Linked DNA regions of Homo sapiens. The protein of the gene in region 2 interacts with the protein of the main gene of each other region in a biochemical or structural test. Each region holds a gene or a part of one and is shown on either strand. Other genes may lie near its edges.

The links.
Region 1: the proteins of CTBP1 (region 2) and BCL3 form a complex in vitro, tested with the Homo sapiens proteins (one study listed by BioGRID).
Region 3: the proteins of CTBP1 (region 2) and RBBP8 form a complex in vitro, tested with the Homo sapiens proteins (3 studies listed by BioGRID and IntAct).

The regions. Positions count from the first base shown.
Region 1 is NC_000019.10:44,751,686-44,758,707, reverse strand, and holds part of BCL3 (B-cell lymphoma 3 protein), read right to left. Parts: intron 2,477-7,022; coding exon 2,368-2,476; intron 1,692-2,367; coding exon 1,487-1,691; intron 1,382-1,486; coding exon 1,293-1,381; intron 1,063-1,292; coding exon 985-1,062; intron 463-984; coding exon 295-462; coding exon of another isoform or gene 163-294; exon of another isoform or gene 1-162. UniProt on the Homo sapiens protein: Contributes to the regulation of transcriptional activation of NF-kappa-B target genes. In the cytoplasm, inhibits the nuclear translocation of the NF-kappa-B p50 subunit.
Region 2 is NC_000004.12:1,211,115-1,218,136, reverse strand, and holds the end of CTBP1 (C-terminal-binding protein 1), read left to right. Parts: exon of another isoform or gene 1-1,931; coding exon 1,932-2,146; exon of another isoform or gene 2,147-2,178; intron 2,179-2,446; exon of another isoform or gene 2,447-2,591; intron 2,592-3,663; coding exon 3,664-3,794; intron 3,795-4,531; coding exon 4,532-4,659; intron 4,660-5,106; coding exon 5,107-5,224; intron 5,225-5,366; exon of another isoform or gene 5,367-5,462; intron 5,463-5,597; exon of another isoform or gene 5,598-5,710; coding exon of another isoform or gene 5,711-5,713; coding exon 5,714-5,897; 3' UTR 5,898-6,692; downstream 6,693-7,022. UniProt on the Homo sapiens protein: Corepressor targeting diverse transcription regulators such as GLIS2 or BCL6. Has dehydrogenase activity. Involved in controlling the equilibrium between tubular and stacked structures in the Golgi complex.
Region 3 is NC_000018.10:22,992,306-22,999,327, forward strand, and holds part of RBBP8 (DNA endonuclease RBBP8), read left to right. Parts: intron 1-442; coding exon 443-1,334; intron 1,335-1,415; coding exon 1,416-1,542; intron 1,543-4,068; coding exon 4,069-4,157; intron 4,158-5,314; coding exon 5,315-5,429; intron 5,430-7,022. UniProt on the Homo sapiens protein: Endonuclease that cooperates with the MRE11-RAD50-NBN (MRN) complex in DNA-end resection, the first step of double-strand break (DSB) repair through the homologous recombination (HR) pathway.

The sequences.
Region 1 (7,022 bases), on a different chromosome or scaffold from region 2:
GTGACCATAGAGCCACCCATGCCTCACAGTCCTCTCTCCCATCCCTCCTAGCTCACTGGATCCAGGTGGTGGCCTCTCCACTTCTCAGTATGAAAAGATGGGCAAGGCACTTTTTTTCTTGGTGCCAGTCTCTCCTCATTTCTGGAACTCACACCCGCGCTTTCAGAGGCTCACCCACTCCCCTCCACGCAACGGCACAGACACCCTCACTCCTCTGCGCTCTGGCACACTCGCCTGCAACCAGCCCGCGGACACACGTGTGCAAGGGGCATGTCCACAGCTGCCCCGGCTCACCCTGCGGCTGCGCGCCACCATGAGCGGCGTGTCGTTGTGGCAGTTCTTGAGGCTGCTGTCAGCGCCGCTGCGGACCAGCGTGCGCACCAGCGGGAGGAGCCCGCGGCCGGACGCTGAGTGCAGGGCGGAGCTGCCGGAGTACATTTGCGCGTTCACGTTGGCGCCGTGCTGCGGGACGGGAGGGCCGGGTCAGGAGGGCGCGCGGGCCACCCGGGGTAAGGGAACAGAGGCTGGAGGCCCGGGTGGGTGGCCGGCACGTGGGGCGGCACCGGATCGGGGTGGGGTCACAGGAAGGTAGGAGCGAGAGCCAAGGGCAGGCCAAGCGGGACTGCGTTGGCGGCGATGAATTAACCGGAGCTGGACACCGAGGCCCGCGCCCCAAGGAGTCGGGGGAGCTGGAGGGGGGAAGGACAATGCGTGGACAGGGCCTAGCTGGAAGGCGGGGTCAGCCAGGCCATCGCAGGGCGGGGCCTAGGCCGTTGAGGTGGCAGAGGAGGAATGGGACAAGTTCGTAGCCAGGGGCGTGGAGCCCGAGGGTCGAGAAAACTAGGCCTTAAAGGATCAGAGCTGGACGCGGAGCAGGAGCCGGAGCCAGAAGTGGAAGGCGGGGTCAGAGCTAGGGGCTGAGGCCAGAGCCGGGTTGGGGTCAGAGGATAGGGTGGGCGCGAGGCTCAGGGGGGCTGTACGCACCTGCAGCAGCAGCTGCACCATGCTAAGGCTGTTGTTTTCCACGGCGTGGATGAGCGGGGAGCGGCCGCTCTTAATGTCCTGCGGCGGGGAGGGAAGGTCTTAGTTTCTCCAAGCTCTGCTCCAGCAGCCGGCGACCCGCATCCCGTCCACATCCCATTCGCGGGGTCCAGCCTCTCTCTTGGGTCTGATACTCCAAGCCCCACCCCACCCGGGTGCTCTCCCACGCCAGCCCCACACTGGCCCCGCCCCCGCCAAGACCCCGCCCCTGCTAAGGCCCCGCTCCCTCCCAGCTCCTAGTGCACGCTCACCACTGCGTCGATGTCGGCACCGCGCTCTAGCAAGAGCTGCACGGTTTCTTGGCACTCGGTGTTCACTGCCACGTGCAGGGCGGTGAGCCCTGAGGGAGAGGAGGGCTCGGTGAAACCTAGGCCCGGGCTTTGCGGCCGCTGATGGACTCCAGGTCCGCTGGACAGCCCAGCGGTGCCCCGCGGTAAATGCTTACCGTCATAATTGCGGGCCTCCAGGTCCAACGTGCCCGGAGCTGCGCTGTCCAGCAGGGCTCGCAGGCAGGTCGGGCTGCGGTGCTCGCACGCCAGGTGAGCGGCCGTCTGGCCATGGCGGTCCAGCGCCATGGGGCTGGCACCAGCTGTCACCAGGAGCCGGACCACAGACGGTAATGTGGTGATCACAGCCAGGTGGAGCGGTGTCTGGGGAACAGTGACTGTGAGGGACCTGTGTCCAGCCCTGCTCTCTAGTCCTGCCTCCCCCAGGTTTTCTGAACCCTTATTCCTCATCCTGCAGTCTTCCCCAGGAACAGAAACCTGAGACACCTCCTGTCTCAGATTCAAGAGTCCGGGCCCCATGCTCCTCCTTCCCCAGGACCCAGAAGACTGGGCCTCCAACCTCCTCTTTCCCTAGTACCTGAATTCTGGGTCCCCAGCCCCCTCCCTCCTCACTAGGAGGTCTTTAGGCCCCCTCCCTCTCAGGAACAACCAGTCCGAGGCCCCAGAGCCCTTCTTCCCCAGGAACCAGGAGCCTGGAGCACCTCGCTACTTAGAGTCCAGACCCCAGCCCTCCTCCCTCAGACCCAGGAGTCCAGACCCCCAGCCCTCCTCCCTCAGACCCAGGAGTCCAGATCCCCAGCCCTCCTCCCTCAGACTCAGGAGCCCAGGACCCAGCCCTCCTCCATCAGACCCCGGATCCCAGGCCCGCAGCCCTCCTCCATCAGACCCAGGAGTCCAGGCACCAGTCCCTCCTCCCTCAGACCCAGGGGTCCAGGCCCCAGCCCCCCTCCCTCAGACCCAGGAGTTCAGGCCCCCAGCCCCTCCTCTGTCAGACCCAGGAGTCCAGGCCCCAGCCCTCCTCCCTCAGACCGAGCCTCACCTGCCGTAGGTTGTTGTAGATGTCGAGCTCCCGGCCCCCCTGCTGGAAGAGGTTGACCAGCCGGTGCACAGCTGGCAGGTTACCCTGCACCACAGCAATATGGAGAGGCCTGGGGGTGGGGGAGTGAAGGAATCACAGGCATTAGGGGTTGTTCACCTCTCACCCTCATGCTGTTGGCAATGCTAACTCCAATGTGTTGAATACTTTGGAAATGTCCCCAGTATTCAAACACTTCTCCCCACCCACTCCCTCCATCCTGATTTACCACCCGCTCCCTCCATCCTGCTTTAGCCACCACTGGCTCCCTGCTGGTCTAGTACAGTTCCATCCTCATGGCTTCTCTGCTTCCACCTATGCTCTACTGTCTGTCCCCCACACAACAGCCAGAGGGACCCTTTTATTTTATTTTATTTTATTTGTTTGAGACGGAGTGTTGTTCTATCGCCCAGGCTGGAGTGCAGTGGTGCTATCTTGTGCTCACTGCAATCTCTGCCTCCCAGGTTCAAGCGATCATCCAACCTCAGCCTCCTGAGTAGCTGGGATTACAGATGTGTGCCATCGCGCCCAGCTAACTTTTGTATTTTTAGTAGAGACATGGTTTCACCATGTTGGCCAGGCTGGTCTCTAACTGCTGGGTTCAAGTGATCCTCCTGCCTCAGCCTCAGCCTCCCAAAGTGCTGGGATTACAGGCGTGAGCCACCACGCCCAGTCTGGAACAAAAGTTTTGACTAAAAGGGAGGTGAGGACAAACTGGGATGGGGCCATTGTTCTGGAGGCGGTACAGTCCAGAACCCCCTTCTAGACTGAAGGACTCACTCCCTCAGCTTCTGGGAAGATTGTCAGCTTTCAGACCATTTGGGAATTACCCTCAACTCAAGAGAGCTGCTTGTCCAAGGTCACGCCCCATGTGAATCAAGGGCAGCTGCCCTTCAATGGCATCCAGTCACTGGTTAATGCCAGCATAGAAGGCCTAGCCTCCTGACCCCAATGCTGAAGGCCATTCCAGCTTCAATATTCCCTGTGGGACAGCTGAGGCCGTGTGGAGGCGACACAGCAGCTCAACTTCTCCCTCTGCCCAGATGGGCTTCCTTCATCCCACAGGTGTTGATGGAGAGCATTTCCAATAAACTTCCTGCTCAGTTTCCAGAGACCCCAACCTAGAACAGCTATTCAGAGACTGGTGTGTGTGCATGCGTGCGTGCTTGTGCACGCCTGTGCTGTTTGCATGGGGTGGGGGACAGAGTGGAGGACCCAAGGAGGACTGCGTGTACACAGTGGGTGGCAGGATCTTTATTTAAAGTTTACTAAGTAATTCCTTTCTCACCAGCACCCGTTTCTCTTGTGGAATGTGTCTCTAGAATCCAGTTTAAACTAGCCTCCCAGGTGGTTCTGATGGAGTGCAGAAATCCCGGGGCCAGAGTTGCAAATTGGGCCACAACCCCTCCTAGCGTAGCCGCGTGCTAGGGCAAAGCCATGGGGGCCTTTCGGAGCCTCAGTTTTCTCTTATGTAAAGTACAGCGTCCACATGCCAGGGTGAGATCACGCAGGTGAATCGCTGAACCTGACTCCTAATCCGTGAAAGCCAAATTTAAAAATAAAATGTTGAGGGAGGGGCCGGGGTCCCTGGGAAGGGTCCCCCCTTCTCTGCATCTCCCAGGACGCCTGGCCTGGGTCCCTCTCGGGGCGGCCAGGGTTAAGTGAGGGCAGACGCAGCGAATGATTTCAGAGAAACCGTCCAGGCCTGAGTTCCCATAAACGCGCGGGCCGCAGGGGGTGGGGCGGGGCTGGAGGAAGTGGGGACGGGAGGGGCGACCCAGCCCTCGGACTTCCAGTAACAGGTCTGCTGGGCGGGGCTCTGCTTCCTGCTCCCGGGGGAGGGAAGCCTGTCCCGCCGGGGATCTACCCTGGCCACCCCTGGCACCCCAACTTCCATCCTCGAATGGGGCGGGGGAAGGGAGTGCCCAGCCCAAGAAGACCTAGCTCCCTTGAGGTGTGTGTGTGTAGGGGGGGCGCATAATCCCGAGTCCTCCCGCCTGGGGGACCCTCTGGAACTCCACCCCGCAGAGCTCAGGCTCCAGCTGGCTGCAAGTCCTCCTTATCCCGGCATCCACCCCCAACATCTCTTGGGAGCCAGAAATAGCCCTAACTCTTCTTTAAGAATAAGGACTTCCCCCGTCCTTCAGAGCTCCAGGATCCCAAACTACCTTGCCAGTCCTTGTCCCCTCAGAGACCCAGAAATACAGCGCCTCAAACCCTGGCCCTTTGGGAACACAGACTTTCAGGCCCCTTGGCGTGACCAGTTTCACCAGCCCAACGTCCTGCTGCCGCTGTCGTGAAATTCTTAAGTTTTGAACAAGGGACTCTGCAAATTTCTGTATCTGGTCCTGCCCGTAAAGCCCCTCTGAGTGCCAGGTCCCCAAGCTGCCAAGCTGCTCCTCATCCCCTCGGAGATTAAGGAATACAGTTCCCCAACTTCTGCCTTCTGAGAATCAGAACATCACCCCCCCCCCCCGCCCCCGCCTTCCTGCCCCCTCCCCAGGTTTCTGGCTGCCCAGTCCCTAACCTCTTGGGGGTCCAAATGCCCCAAGGCTCGTACCCGCCTGTGAGGAGATGGAAGCCCAGCCTCCCAACCTTTTGGCTTCTGCGGGGACCCAGACTTAGCGTCCCCCGCCCTCCTCGCCCCCACTGCCCTCCCCCGCGGGTGTGAAGAGGAGCCGGTGGCGCAGGCTGGGGCCGGGCCGCTGCCCGTTCCGGTAAAGTCTCAGCCCCAGCGGAAGGGGTTAAGGTTGGAGGAAGCGCCAGGAGGGGGGAGGCTGCGAGTGAGTGACGGGTGCTGACGTGGGGGAGGCAGAGCAGCTGGGTTGCGGTCAAGTTCTGCGGGAAGGGATTTCCCCCAGCAGGCAGCTGAGGCAGAAGTGTTTGCCTTGGGGGAGAGTCGGAGAGGGAGGGTGTGGGGAGGGCCTGGGGCTGGAGACTGGTGGGCCGGGTGGCCTCTGGCAAGCACCCTGCTTTTCAACAGCATGGACAGCTCACCACTGGGGGCAGAGACTGTCTGATTAAGCCCATTTCATAGATGACCCCCCAGAGGTACCCAGAAGGGGAGGGAACTAGGTTTTATTAGCTCTTTATAATCTAGGCCACTTTCTCCTGCTAGGGCTCTGGAGATGGCCTGCAACCACCCTGGGAGCTCTGCTCAAACATTACCCATTTCCATGCATTGAGCACTTACTGTTTGCCCAGCCCTGTTCTGTGCACTGTATTAATACATGTGTACAAGATCTCACTGAATCCTAATTGTGATAGGTGCTATTATGAGACCCAGTTTCCAAATAGGGAAACTGAGACTCAGGGACATGAAATCACTCAGTGGGCCAGTGGCGGAGCAGCCCTCTGCTACTTCTCTGCAGAAACAGGCCTGTTCATCTCTACCTGTGGTTTCCAGGCCCCAAACTAATTCTCACAGAAGTGCTTTGTATAAATCATGTCATTTCTTCCTCCCAGAGACCCTCACACGCGATGGTTCCTGTTTTTACAGAGAGGGAAACTGAGGCACAGAGGGAGTAGAACGTGGCCACGCTGAGATTCCAACCCAGGTCAATAGAATAATAAGAATCATGATGATCAATTGCAGTGAGTGCTTACTATGTGCTAGGCACAGACCAAACCCTCCCGTGCAGGACTTCTCAGCAGCCTCACAAACATGTTCTTCAGACTGCAGGTGATAAACCATGGGGGTTGTGAAATCAATTTAGGGGATCTTCAAATTAATGTAGTGGGCTGTGACCATGAAACAATGAAGTCGACTAGAATAGAAAATGGCAAAGTAAAGCTGTAAGCTGGGCTCGGTGGCTCACATCTGTAATCTCAGCACTTTGGGAGGCTGAGGTGGGAGGATCACTTAAGCCCAGGAGTTTGAGACCAGTCTGGGCAACATAGCAAGACTGCTGTGTTTCTACAAAAAAAAAATACAAAAATTAGCCAGGTGTGGGGGTAGCGTCTGTGGTCCCAGCTACTCAGGAGGCTGAGGTGGGAGGATCATTTGAGCCCAAGAGATCAAGGCTGCAGTGAGCTATGATTGCACCACTGCACTCCAGCCTGGGTGACAGATCGAGACCCTGTCTCAGAAAAAAAAAAAAGAAAAAGAAAAAAAGAAAAAAAGAAAATGTCACAGTAGAACCCACATAGTAAGGGCGAGTATTGTTTCATTTTGTGCAATTTTAATTTCAAGTTTGTGTGTGTGTGTGTGTGTGTGTGTGTGTGTGCTGGGTTTGAGATAAAATAATAGTAATATTAACAAACACTTACTCAACATTTATGCCAGGTCCAGTGATAGTTTTACATGTATAATTCATATAGTAAGTTAATCAATGAACTGTCTTTCTTGTTTTTAGGTTGTGACAAAATATCTAAAGACCACCGTTCCAAAAATAGTGTTCTAGGGGTGGGCTTGGGGCTCATGCCTGTAATCCCAGCACTTTGGGAGGCCAAGGCGAGTGGATCACTTGAGGTCAGGAGTTTGAGACCAACCTGGCCAACATGGTGAAACCCTGTCTCTACCAAAAAATACAAAAATTAGCCAGGCTTGGCAGTGGGCACCTGTAGTCTCAGCTACTCGGGAGGCTGTGGCATGAGACTCACTTGAACTTGGGGGGCAG
Region 2 (7,022 bases):
ACCAAGGCCTGTTCTTTAAAATTTATTTTTTAAATTCTTTTCTCTCTGCTTCTGTTTGGATGCCATCTGCTGACTTTGAGCCCCTCCCTTCAAGCTCCCGATCCTTTTCTTGCAGTTAGCTTTGTCCAGGGAGTTCCGTTTCAGAGGGATGTTTTCGTTCTGGAATTTCTATGTGGTTCTTTATAGAGTTACCATTCATCTTCCGGAAGCCTCCATTTTTCTGCTGTTTACATCCACACTTGTTGTCATCTCTGAGCATGTTTATAGTAGTTATTAAGAGGTTTTGCTGGCTGATTCCAGCCTCGGTCATCTGTGCGTCTGTCCGCTTCCAGTGTTTTGTTCTAATTAGAAACTACATCCTCCTGTCTCTTCACCTGCATCATCATAATTTCTTATCCTAAGCCAGACATCATGTGGAAGAGAATGGCAGAGACAGAAGTGAAGAATGGTCTCGCCCCGAACAGCCGCTGCTCTCCCGTGTCAGGCGTGGCCGGCGCCGGCCCGCGGCTTTAGCTGGTTTTCGCCACCGGCAGCCCGACTTCCGGGGCTTTGTGTTGTGCGCAGTGGGAAACAGCGTGTCGTCCGCCTTCTGCGCTGTGGGAGACGCCTTTCTCTGTGTCTGCCTGTGTTCTCTTCCTCCCCATTTGGTGGGATCCCTGGCAGGGGGCGTTGACAGACGGGCTGTTCTGCACCTGGGGAGCTGCCCGGGTACTCCGGCCGTGGCTGCAACCCTCAGAACTGCTGCTCCCACCTCCGCCTGCCGAGCCCTCCTCCCTCCTGCAGCAGCCTCGTCCCTGGGGATGGAAGGAGCCACCATGTTCCTTCTCGTAGAACAGGCGCCTCCCTTTCTAGGATGTAGTGCGTTTAGACGGTCCTCAGCTCTTCTGACTGGCCTCCCAGCCTCCCCCAGTCCTCTTCCCAGAGTGACTGGGGGTCCCCTGGGCGTTTGGGCCACGTCCGGCCACCCTGTGTGCCTGGCGGTCTGGTCTCCTTGGCCCTCAGGCCGCCGCGGGCCCCTCGCACGTGTTGTTCCAGCTCTCTGGCTCCCTTCCTGTCCCCTTATGTCTCCAGCAAGCTTGGTCTTCTCAGGGAGGCCTGCCCTGGCTGCCGCCTTTGAAACTGCGCCCACTTCCCACCCGCCCCGGCGCTCAACCTGCTTCCTTCCTGTGTAGCGGTTCCCTCTGAGGCAATGCAGGAGACACCACGTTCGCGGGCTTGGGGTCCTGTGTCCTTTGCAGCCATGCTGTTGGCTCACAGTGGGCACGAGCACTCTGCAGACCCTTCCCCGAGGAGGAGCCGGCCCCAGCCAGACACGGTGGCTCAAGCTCCACGGCTCCTGTGCTGGGACCCGTGCCAGCCTTGGACTGCTGGGGTGGGGGCAGGCACGTCTGCCTGGGATGGCTTTCTCTGCCGCTCCACTCGAAGGGGTCAGGACCTGAGCCCAGCGGGGCCTCCCTGGTCTGGAAGTTTCCCTCCTGCCCCCTTTGCCGTCTCCACGTAGTGGTGGCTGGAATTGAGATGCCGGAAACATTGATGGGTGGATCGAAAGGCCAGCGGAGGGGCCTGGGCACGGAGGACATGTGTTGGGTGGGTGGAGACCCACTGACCAGTCCGTTTGACACTGAGTGGTTCATGTCACGTCCTGTGGACAGGCTGCAGGGGAGTGGTGTGGCTGGCAGCTGGTGTGGGCCGAGGGGCTAGTGTACCCTTTCCACCCCTGTGCATCTCCTCCGCCTTGGCAGTGGGCGCGTTGGAGCGGACGTGGAGCGCTCGTGTGGAGCGTGCGTGGGCACCTTGGCTTGACCACAGCTGGTGTCATCCTTGGCAGATGGTCAAACTGAGGCACAGAGGCCACTCCGACCCTGGCTTTCGGGGCCGGCCTCCCGGCCACGGGTGAGCAAGGGTCTCACACTGTGTCTTGACGCCACCAGGTCGCGTGGGGCAGGCAGTGGCGCTGCGGGCCAAGGCCTTCGGCTTCAACGTGCTCTTCTACGACCCTTACTTGTCGGATGGCGTGGAGCGGGCGCTGGGGCTGCAGCGTGTCAGCACCCTGCAGGACCTGCTCTTCCACAGCGACTGCGTGACCCTGCACTGCGGCCTCAACGAGCACAACCACCACCTCATCAACGACTTCACCGTCAAGCAGGTGCGTGGAGCCGGGGACACAGGACTCTACTTCTGCGGGGCAGGTACAGGTGGGGGTGTCAGGCAGGTCCCTCCCAGCAGCCATCTGCACCTGGGCAAGACCCTGCCTTCAGCGAGCCACATGGCGGCGGCTGCCAGCCCTGCTGGGGGAAGCCCTGTCTGCCCAGACAGCGTTTTCTGTGTTCTGAGTTCTACTCAGGACATCTAAAATACTCTCTGGACAAGACAGAACCTCATACCTTTGAACACCAAATTCCCCTGAAGCCCTTGCTGTTGTCACAGTGGGGACAGATGCAGCTACCTGGGGGCGTTGGGTCGGCCCTTGTGACTTCCGTGCTGCCAGGTTCAGGTTTCACATCTGCAGCTGGAACGGGCTGTGCTCAGGTCGGCCTCTGACATCTGCAGCTGGAAAGGGCTGTGCTCAGGTCGGCCTCTGACATCTGCAGCTGGAACGGGCTGTGCTCAGGTCGGCCTCTGCCTCAGCACAGCTCGCAGTGCAGCCTCAGCCCTGCGTTCCCCTTGAGTGGGTGGAGCTGGGGATGGCTGCCTCCCGCTGGCTCCAGGCCCTTCAGGGAGTCATCGTGTGTGCACAGTGATGTGTATGTGTGTGGGCAAGTGTGCGTGGGTGCATGTGTCTGCATGTTTGTATGAGCTTGTATGTATGTGCATGTGTGTACACACGTGTCAGAGGCCACCCGCCCACTCTAGCTGCCCCAGCAGCCTGTAGCCACAAGGAGGATGAGGCCAGGTTCCCGCTGCCCCTTCCTTTGTTCACAGAGTCAGTGGGTTTGGAGCCTTCTAGGGGACAGGGTGTGGCACGTGGATGCTGGTCAGAGCCCTGCCGTCCCTGAGGACCTTGGGTGTGAGGCTTTAATGGGCAGCAGTGCACCAAAGAAAAGCCACCGTGACCTGCCCAGCTGTCAGCCAAGCACCGTGGCTGGGTGGACTTCTTGGAATGAAATGGGGGGGCTGCAGGAAAGCCCTGGCCACGAAGCCGAGGGAGAGCCACCCGCAGGGCTTTTTGCAAAAGTGCATGAAAAGCGAGCCTGTTCCGAAGACGGAGGCTCTGCTGCAGGCCCCGCTGGGGTTGGAGTCAAAGACCACGCCTCAGAACAGACGGCCCTGGGCTTTGCCGTCCCAGGGAGTCCCACCTCGTGGGCTGAGGCCCTGCGTGGGGGAGGCTGGGCTGGAGGGGACCCAGAAAAGGGGTACCACAGGGGGACCAAGCCAGGAGCCCCCGCCCAGTCCTCAGCTCAGGGCTTGGGCAGGAGGGTGGAGCTCTCTAGGAGCTGTGGGGCCGTGCAGGTCCATACAGGGCAGATCCTCAGCCAGCCTGTCAGGGCCGCGGTGCAGCACGCCCGAGGCCTTCAGTCCTAGCGCCGTGGTGAGCCCAGGGTGGGGCTGGGAAGGGGCTAGGGAGCTGGGCCTTCCCAACGGCGTGCGTGACCACCTTGCTTCCCTGGCTGCCCGCCCTGTGCGGATCCCTGACTGGGCCTGGCCTGTCCTTATGTCTTCTAGATGAGACAAGGGGCCTTCCTGGTGAACACAGCCCGGGGTGGCCTGGTGGATGAGAAGGCGCTGGCCCAGGCCCTGAAGGAGGGCCGGATCCGCGGCGCGGCCCTGGATGTGCACGAGTCGGAACCCTTCAGGTGCCCCCACGGCCAGTGCCGCCCCCCTGCTCTTCCCTGTCCACCATCCTGCCGGCCTTGACCTCCAGACGGCGCCTCTGCCAGGCCGGACACTTGCCTGTACTCAGGCCTCTCGCTGGCCAGCAGTGGGGGAGTTTGCCGCCCGCTGCGGGGTGAGGATGGAGCCACGGGCTCTAGGCCTGCCTTGCCTCGGTCCTGTGAGGGGCTGCTCAACCTCCTCAGCCCTTCTTTGGGCAGGGCTCCTGACCAACCAGGAGAGAGTGAGGCCCCAGTGTCTGTGAGTGGTCCCCATGGGCCCTGGCCATGGAGTCATGGCATCCCGTCCAGACCTGCAGCCCCTACAGCACCTTGGGACCCCAGGCAGCCCTGGGTTGGATGTTCAGCCGCAAGAGGAGACACCCCCACAGGGGCAGTATCAGCCTGCAGCTCCTGGGGCTACAGACCCTTTGGCTGGAAGGGGCCAGGCAGCATGTCCCCCCATCAGGGCTCCTCCCACGAGGGACTTGGAGATTAAATCCCTTGGGCTCCCACACCCGCCGCTGTCAGGAGCCCCTGGTGTGTCTGATGGTCCCGGGGCTGTGCTCTTGAGCTCAGCCAGCCTGCCGAGCAGAGCAGGGCCGTGGGGTCTGTGGTTCCCAGGCAGGGCCCCCCACAGGGGGTTCCAGTGCCCAGCCACCTCCCCTCCGTACCCAGCCACAGCACTCAGGCTGCACTGACCATGCCTGTGCTGTTCCCAGCTTTAGCCAGGGCCCTCTGAAGGATGCACCCAACCTCATCTGCACCCCCCATGCTGCATGGTACAGCGAGCAGGCATCCATCGAGATGCGAGAGGAGGCGGCACGGGAGATCCGCAGAGCCATCACAGGTGGGCGTGGGGGCCGCTCGGTCAGGCCTGGGGGTCCCTTCCTGCCAGCCCCAGATGCTCATGGGCTCGCATCCGCCTGGCAGCCAGGCCCATGTTCTGCCAGCTCAGGGCCCGTGGTGCTCTCACTGCACCCCCAGCAGGGACCTCTAAGGCCAAAGTCAAGTTGAGCCCTGGCGTCGTGTCTTACACACAGGACCTGCTGGGAAGTTGCTGGGCTGAGCAGACAGGTCCCTCAGCAAGCTGGGCACGTGCTCTGGGCTGGGGGTCCCCACGCTGCAAGGGTGCCAGTGCCCAGAGAGACAGGACCCTGCCGTGCCTTGGGAGCCCCGGGGCTGAGAGGGAGGAGCACACTGCCAAGAATCCTGCTGCCCGTGTCTTCAACCCAGTGGGCCACGCTCCTGGGGCCCCCTCAGAGCCACAGCTGTTCCTTCCTCCTGCATCTCCCAGGCCGGATCCCAGACAGCCTGAAGAACTGTGTCAACAAGGACCATCTGACAGCCGCCACCCACTGGGCCAGCATGGACCCCGCCGTCGTGCACCCTGAGCTCAATGGGGCTGCCTATAGGTGAGCAGGCCCGCTGGCCCAGAACAGCCTCCAGGAGGGCCCCAGGCTTCCCCTGGATCCCAGCACAGCCCCTGGTGGGAGGGGCGGCGTCTCCACTGACTGACCTGGAGGATCTGGGTAGAATTGGTAAGGCCAACCTCACCTGAAAGGCCCATGAGAACCAGGGCCTCTTGGAAGGAGCCTGGGCTGGGGTGGCCTTCAGGGCTCAGTGGACACAGGAGTGCCATGGGCACGGGGCCTGTGGGAGGAGGGGGCTTTGGGTGAGGCGAAGACCTCATGTTCAAGTCACCTGGAGACACCAGGGCTCCCCTCCCCAGCCCTGAGAAGTAGCTGCCATAGGCAGGAACATCCGTGTAAAGGCCGGGATCCTTACCCTGACTGCTGGTCCTCCTGGAGAGGCCCCCTCGGTGCTGCCGATGCTAGGAGGGCAGGTGGGGCCTGGCCAGGCCGCCTACAGGTGGGCCTCACGGATGGACCCTCTCCCAGCAGGTACCCTCCGGGCGTGGTGGGCGTGGCCCCCACTGGCATCCCAGCTGCTGTGGAAGGTATCGTCCCCAGCGCCATGTCCCTGTCCCACGGCCTGCCCCCTGTGGCCCACCCGCCCCACGCCCCTTCTCCTGGCCAAACCGTCAAGCCCGAGGCGGATAGAGACCACGCCAGTGACCAGTTGTAGCCCGGGAGGAGCTCTCCAGCCTCGGCGCCTGGGCAGAGGGCCCGGAAACCCTCGGACCAGAGTGTGTGGAGGAGGCATCTGTGTGGTGGCCCTGGCACTGCAGAGACTGGTCCGGGCTGTCAGGAGGCGGGAGGGGGCAGCGCTGGGCCTCGTGTCGCTTGTCGTCGTCCGTCCTGTGGGCGCTCTGCCCTGTGTCCTTCGCGTTCCTCGTTAAGCAGAAGAAGTCAGTAGTTATTCTCCCATGAACGTTCTTGTCTGTGTACAGTTTTTAGAACATTACAAAGGATCTGTTTGCTTAGCTGTCAACAAAAAGAAAACCTGAAGGAGCATTTGGAAGTCAATTTGAGGTTTTTTTTTTTGTTTTTTTTTTTTTTGTATGTTGGAACGTGCCCCAGAATGAGGCAGTTGGCAAACTTCTCAGGACAATGAATCCTTCCCGTTTTTCTTTTTATGCCACACAGTGCATTGTTTTTTCTACCTGCTTGTCTTATTTTTAGAATAATTTAGAAAAACAAAACAAAGGCTGTTTTTCCTAATTTTGGCATGAACCCCCCCTTGTTCCAAATGAAGACGGCATCACGAAGCAGCTCCAAAAGGAAAAGCTTGGGCGGTGCCCAGCGTGCCCGCTGCCCATCGACGTCTGTCCTGGGGACGTGGAGGGTGGCAGCGTCCCCGCCTGCACCAGTGCCGTCCTGCTGATGTGGTAGGCTAGCAATATTTTGGTTAAAATCATGTTTGTGACTGTAACCATTTGTATGAATTATTTTAAAGAAATAAAAATCCTGGAAAGAGCCAGCGTGCCCAGCATCTATTCTGGTGACTTTCTCTCATGAGGACACGGGTGAGCCTCAGTCCTGGCTCTGGTGACCTCCACGGCTCAGCTCAGCCTCTCTGAAGTGGGCGGCCTAAGAGAGACCCAGAGACAGTGCAGTGGCAGGTTGGGCAGTGGTCTCTGTGTGTACCGGGCCTGTCCCTCTGCCCACTGGGTCTGTGGGACGCTGTAGGGTCCTGGCTTGGAGGCGGCCTGCCCGCAGTGCCCCAGTGGGAGGGAAGCAGTGTGCCAGCCGGGCCGTTGTGTGGATGATGGTGTGACTGGCTGAGGTCCTGCCCCACTGCCCACCCCTC
Region 3 (7,022 bases), on a different chromosome or scaffold from region 2:
GTGCCTTAGCCACCAGAGTAGCTGGGATTACTGGCGTGTGCCACCACACCCGGCTAATTTTTGTATTTTTAGTAGAGATGGGGTTTCACCATGTTAGCCAGGCTGGCCTCGAACTTCTGGCCTCAAGTGATCTGCCCACCTTGGCCTCCCAAAGTGCTGGGATTACAGGCATGAGCCACTGCGCCTGGCAAAAGATGATTTTTTGTATAATAAAGTTATTTAAAGTACTTAGGAAAAATTTTTAAAATATGAATATTATGGTGTTGAGAAATACTTCCTATGTCATTTTCCTCTGCTTTTCCCCTTCTCTTTTGTCATCTAAATGAAGAGAAGCCAAAAGCTGTACCTTGTCTTAAATTTTGGTTAATCATTTGCTTCTAAGAGGTAGATAAGACCTTACTATTAATTCTGTATTAAAGAATTGTTATCACTCTTTATTTAGATTTTCAGATTCTACTTCAAAGACTCCTCCTCAAGAAGAATTACCTACTCGAGTGTCATCTCCTGTATTTGGAGCTACCTCTAGTATCAAAAGTGGTTTAGATTTGAATACAAGTTTGTCCCCTTCTCTTTTACAGCCTGGGAAAAAAAAACATCTGAAAACACTCCCTTTTAGCAACACTTGTATATCTAGATTAGAAAAAACTAGATCAAAATCTGAAGATAGTGCCCTTTTCACACATCACAGTCTTGGGTCTGAAGTGAACAAGATCATTATCCAGTCATCTAATAAACAGATACTTATAAATAAAAATATAAGTGAATCCCTAGGTGAACAGAATAGGACTGAGTACGGTAAAGATTCTAACACTGATAAACATTTGGAGCCCCTGAAATCATTGGGAGGCCGAACATCCAAAAGGAAGAAAACTGAGGAAGAAAGTGAACATGAAGTAAGCTGCCCCCAAGCTTCTTTTGATAAAGAAAATGCTTTCCCTTTTCCAATGGATAATCAGTTTTCCATGAATGGAGACTGTGTGATGGATAAACCTCTGGATCTGTCTGATCGATTTTCAGCTATTCAGCGTCAAGAGAAAAGCCAAGGAAGTGAGACTTCTAAAAACAAATTTAGGCAAGTGACTCTTTATGAGGCTTTGAAGACCATTCCAAAGGGCTTTTCCTCAAGCCGTAAGGCCTCAGATGGCAACTGCACGTTGCCCAAAGATTCCCCAGGGGAGCCCTGTTCACAGGAATGCATCATCCTTCAGCCCTTGAATAAATGCTCTCCAGACAATAAACCATCATTACAAATAAAAGAAGAAAATGCTGTCTTTAAAATTCCTCTACGTCCACGTGAAAGTTTGGAGACTGAGAATGTTTTAGATGACATAAAGGTTTGTGTTAAATGTTCAAGGATTTTGATTAAAATGATTGCTTGTGATTTCATTTAGAGCTAACAATTATTTCTGTTTTAGAGTGCTGGTTCTCATGAGCCAATAAAAATACAAACCAGGTCAGACCATGGAGGATGTGAACTTGCATCAGTTCTTCAGTTAAATCCATGTAGAACTGGTAAAATAAAGTCTCTACAAAACAACCAAGGTGTGTACACCATAAACAGGATCTCCACTTTTTTAATGACTTCAGATTGAATGTCATTATTTACTTTTTTAAATAGATTGAATTGTTTTGGAAAAAAACTTATTTCTTCCTTCAGGTGTCTGTATTTATAGGACGATTCTCACATTTTACCGGTGATTTTTCTGTTCTTTTTTTTTTTTTTTTTTTTTTTTGAGACGGAGTCTCGCTCTGTCGCCCAGGCTGGAGTGCAGTGGCGCGATCTCGGCTCACTGCAAGCTCCGCCTCCCGGGTTCACACCATTCTCCTGCCTCAGCCTCCCGAGTAGCTGGGACTATAGGCGCCCACCATGCCCGGCTAATTTTTTTTTTTTGTATTTTTAGTAGAGACGGGGTTTCACCACATTAGCCAGGATGGTCTAGATCTCCTGACATCGTGATCCACCAGCGTCGGCCTCCCAAAGTGCTGGGATTACAGGCGTGAGTCACTGCGCCCGGCCACTTATATACGTTTTTAAACTCCTTTAAAAACATTGTTGGCCCGGTACGGTGGCTCACACCTGTAATCCCAGCACTTTGGGAGGCCGACGCTGGTGGATCACGATGTCAGGAGATCGAGACCATCCTGGCTAACGTGGTGAAACCCCATCTCTACTAAAAACACAAAAAATAAGCCAGGCATGGTGGCAGGCGCCTGTAGTCCCAGCTATTCGGGAGGCTGAGGCAGGAGAATGGTGTGAACCCGGGAGGTGGAGCTTGCAGTGAGCCGAGATCGTGCCACTGCACTGCACTCCAGCCTGGGTGACAGAGCAAGACTCCGTCTCAAAAAAAAAAAAGAAAAAAAAAATTGTTTGCCTTAAGATATATAGGCATCTTTTCATAATTTTGCTATATTTTATTATTATTATTATTATTATTTGAGACAGGGTCCTACTCTGTCACCCAGACTGGAGTGCAGTGGCATGATCACGGCTCACTTGCAGCCTTGACCTCCCAGGCTCAGGTGGATCCTCCCATCTCAGCCCCCTGGATAGCTGGGACTACAAGCATGCACCACCACACCCAGCTGATTTTTTTATTTTTTGAAGTGACTGGGTTTCGCCTTGTTGCCCAGGTTGGTCTCGAACTACTGGACTCAAGCCATCTGCCTGCCTTGGCCTCCCAAAGTGCTGGGATTACAGGTGTGAACCACCCACGCCCAGCCTGCTATCTTTAAAAAAGTAATTTTTTTTTTCAGCCACCAAACATTTCTGTAGTTCAAGTGCAGTATTTTTTCTTGTATTCTTCATTGGCAAGTTATTCCTTTATTCTGGGTTTATTTTCCCTTTTTCCTGAAGCACAGTCATTAGTTGTTTTTCCAGTGAGTGTTTTAGTCTCTATATGAAAACATTTTTTTCACTATCATTCATGATTTTTTTTGAGCTTTTTGTTTTTATTTTTTTCATGGTTGCTCTAGGGATTACAGTATCTACCTACTTAGCCTTTTACAATCTACTTGGAGTTAATGTACTATTTCATGTTCTGTAACTACACTTTATGTAGTTCCTGTGTATTTTATCTACATATATTGAAAACCCCATCAATGTTATAGTTTTTAATTTTAAAAAATTTTAATTGAAATATAAATCACATACCATAAAAATCACCCATTAAAATGTTCAATTCAGTGGTTTGGTATACCCACAGAGTTGTACAACCATCACTGTAGTCTAGGTTTACAACATTTTCATCACTTTCCTTCCCCATATACCCTCTGCAGTCCTAGGCACCTTAAATCTACTTTCTCTCTTTGTAGATTTGCCTATTCTGGGAGTTTTCATATAAATGGAATCGTTTAATATATGATCTTTTGTTACTTCTTTCACTTGGCATAATGTTTTCAGTTATCTGTGTTACAGCATATATCAATATTTTATTTCTTTTTATTGGATAATTTTTTATTGCATAAGTATACCATATTTTAGGTATTTATTAGCTGACATTCAAGTTGTCACTTTTTTGCTATTATGAACAATGCTGCTATGAACATTTGTATACAGGTTTTTGTGTGGATGTATGTTTTCATTTTTCTTGGATTATACCTAGGAGTGGAATTGTTGGGCCATATGCCAATTCTACATTTTACCTTTTGAAAGACTGCCTGTTTTCCAAAGCAGCTACACCATTTCACATTCCCACCAGCAGTATGTGAGGGTCCCAGTATCTCCACCTCCTCACTAGCACTTGTTATAGCTTTTTGATTTTTGCCATCTCGTGGTTTTGGTTTGCATTTCCTTGACTGCTGATGATGTTGAGCATCCTTTCATGTTTATTGGCAATTTGTATATCTTCTTTGGAGAACTGTCTATTTAGATCCTTTGCCCATCTTTAATTGGGATATTTGTCTTTTTATTATGGAGCTGTGAGAGTTCTTTATATATCTTAGATATAAGTCCTTTACCAGACATATGATTTGCAAAAATTTTCTATTCTTTAGGTCCCATAATATTTTAAAGTGATGAGAATTTTTGAAATCAGTTTTTTAATTGCATGCTCTTTCCCTTTACCTAAGATGTATCCTTTGAAAATATCCAGTGGAGTATAGATCCGGGAGCAGACCTTTCTCAGTATAAAATGGATGTTACTGTAATAGATACAAAGGTAAGTTAAAAAGTAAAACCAAAACTCATTTGACTTTTATTCCAATGAGTTGTTAGTCAACCTCCTCTCGTGACTCACTGTATCACCTTAAGATAATCAGATACGTCTTAAAACCTACATGTATTTATGCAGAAAATTAAGAAATAAAAATGCTTATTCTTCTAACTTTATGGTATTTTTTAAAGGGTAATACTTTCTGACTTTAAAGGCCTTTACTGAAAAATATTAATATAGTTTTTAAAAGAATGCAGTGGGCAGGCGCAGTGGCTCATGCCTGTAATCCCAACACTCTGGGAGGTCGAAGAGAGAGAATCACTTGAAGCCAGGAATTCGAGACCAGCCTGGGCAATATAGCAAGGCCCTGTCTCTATAGGAAATTTTAAAGTTAGCTGGGCATGGCAGTGCATACCTGTAGTCCTAGCTACTTGGGAGGCTGAGGTTGGGAGGATACCTTGAACCCAGGAATTCGAGGCTGCAGTGAGGTATGATCACACCACTGCACATCCAGCCTAGGCAACCAGAGCAAGACCCTGTCTCATAAATTAAAATAATGCAAAATGCTGCATATCTTATATAATTTTATCATTCATTAAAATAATTCATCATGTCTTCATTACCTTTAAAATAATGTACCATAAAATTCATTTTCCAAGTTGACTATTTTTAAAAGTTAAAATTCATAGTGGAAATAGTTTTTTGTCTTGTATTTAGCTTCTGTGTAGTTTCAGAAGTTCTCTTTCACTTGGTAGCATATTAATAACAAAGTATTTAACATACGCTGAGTAATATATGCCTATCAAGAAATTTAATTTAATTTTTGAAAGTGTTCTTAGTGTACATTGATGTTCATTACTATAAGGCAAATTGGAAAATAAAGGCAGGAAAAGTTCAGGGGTGTTTAGTGGTAAATAATTCTCCCTTTCCTTGGCAGCAGTCCTTCTTTTCCTAGGCTTGATTATATTGAAGCTAAAATGTTTTATAAGCAGTAAAACCTAAATCCTTACCTGTTCGTAAAGTATAAAAGCAAATATAGCTTAATGCTTAAAAGTTGTAAAATGTATGTTATGTATATTTTACCAAAATGTTTTGTAAAAATTAAATATAAGACCATAAAGGAATAATTGTTAAAATTTTTGATTTTTAAAATATTTATTTAGGATGGCAGTCAGTCAAAATTAGGAGGAGAGACAGTGGACATGGACTGTACATTGGTTAGTGAAACCGTTCTCTTAAAAATGAAGAAGCAAGAGCAGAAGGGAGAAAAAAGTTCAAGTAAGATCTGTTTTTGTTTTGTTATTTTTTTTAATAACGTTGTGTGAAGTTTGTAGTTGTACCATTGCACTGATTAGCTCAAGTGACCTCTTCACCATAAAGCAGGTTTTTTCCTGCTCTGTTAACTTTATGTTCCTCTTAGGAAAGCTCAGTTTCAGTGCGTCAGAAAAAAAGTCTTTAACCAAACTAATTTCATTTCAGAAAAGATTCATATGGCTTCCAGGGATTTGCAAATGACAGCCAGCTACCAGTTTTGTAAATAAAGTTCTACCAGAGCACAGCCTTATTCATTTCTTTATGTATTGCCCATCGCTGTTTGTTCCATACAGCTGCAGAGTTGAGTAGTTGATGCAGAGACCTTATAGCCCCACAAGCCTAAAATAGTTATTTTCTGACCCTTTAAGAAAAAGTTTGCTGATCCCTGGTGTAGACAATTTTTTATAAGTGGTATAACAGTAAGTCTTGAGTCCTGTGTTAGAATTAACGTTTTCTAAAGAAATTTGATAAGGAAAGAAAGGAGAAATCTACCGAGAAGTCTTAGTATAGTTTTACAGGTTAACATTCAGAATGATAGTGTATATGCTGAGTTAATCTGCTGTATTCCACCTCTACTGATAAGGCAATTTGGCCAAATTAGTGGTCTACAGCCCTTTGTAGTGAGAAACTATTAATTCTTTACCCAAAGTCTTGATTTTCCGGAAGAGATGAGAACAATAGGAGGATTTTGGTTAGCAGTACCTTAGCAACATTCCTAACTGTAGAGGCACATGACATGAGAACAGCTAGACTATGAACAGTTGTCATTTATCATCCTTATGTATTGAAGAGCGAGGGCCTGCCACATGGGGAAGCAGTGCTAAAAGCAGAGACATTCCCCAGTGATCATTTGTTAGAAGCCGAATACATTGAGGCTGGGTGTGCATTCCTTATCTTCTGCTGAATTTTCTATAGTCTACCTGCTCAGAGCAAAAAATAAAATAGTCTTGCCCTGGCTTCTTTTGAATCTACTTATCTACTGCTGCCTTAAATGCAGTAAATCAAAGAAAACTTTAGTAGTCTTTGCCTTATTTGTTCTTCAATGACAAATAGCAAACCATATGATGAAGCAGATGGTTACCTGGGTAGAGAAGCCAATACCTATTAAAAGAAAAAACCTTCACAGTAGTTTATTGCCATTTTATGGCTTGTATGACACTAAATAACTCTTCTTAAGAGGATACTTTGCTTTTAAGATTATTTTGTTCCTGATACTAGCCTCTGATCATGTTTTTCTCATTTTTGTAGAAAAGAGAAAATCTAAAGTATGACCACTTTAAATCTATTCAGAAGACAATAGTTTCTCAAATTTATTTGATGCAAGTATCATGTGAAAGAGAAATTAGCACTTGGACTAATGAGGGGAAATTATAGAGATAATTTTGGCTAATAAAGTGCTATGGATAGTATTGCTACATAATGAATGAATCACTTGAATAACTCAGAGGATTCAAACAATACCATTTTCTTATCTTCATAGTTCCTGTGGCTCAGGAATTCAGGAAAGGCTTGGCTGGTCAGTTCTGTTTCAGGGTCTCATGCAGTTGTAGGCAGATG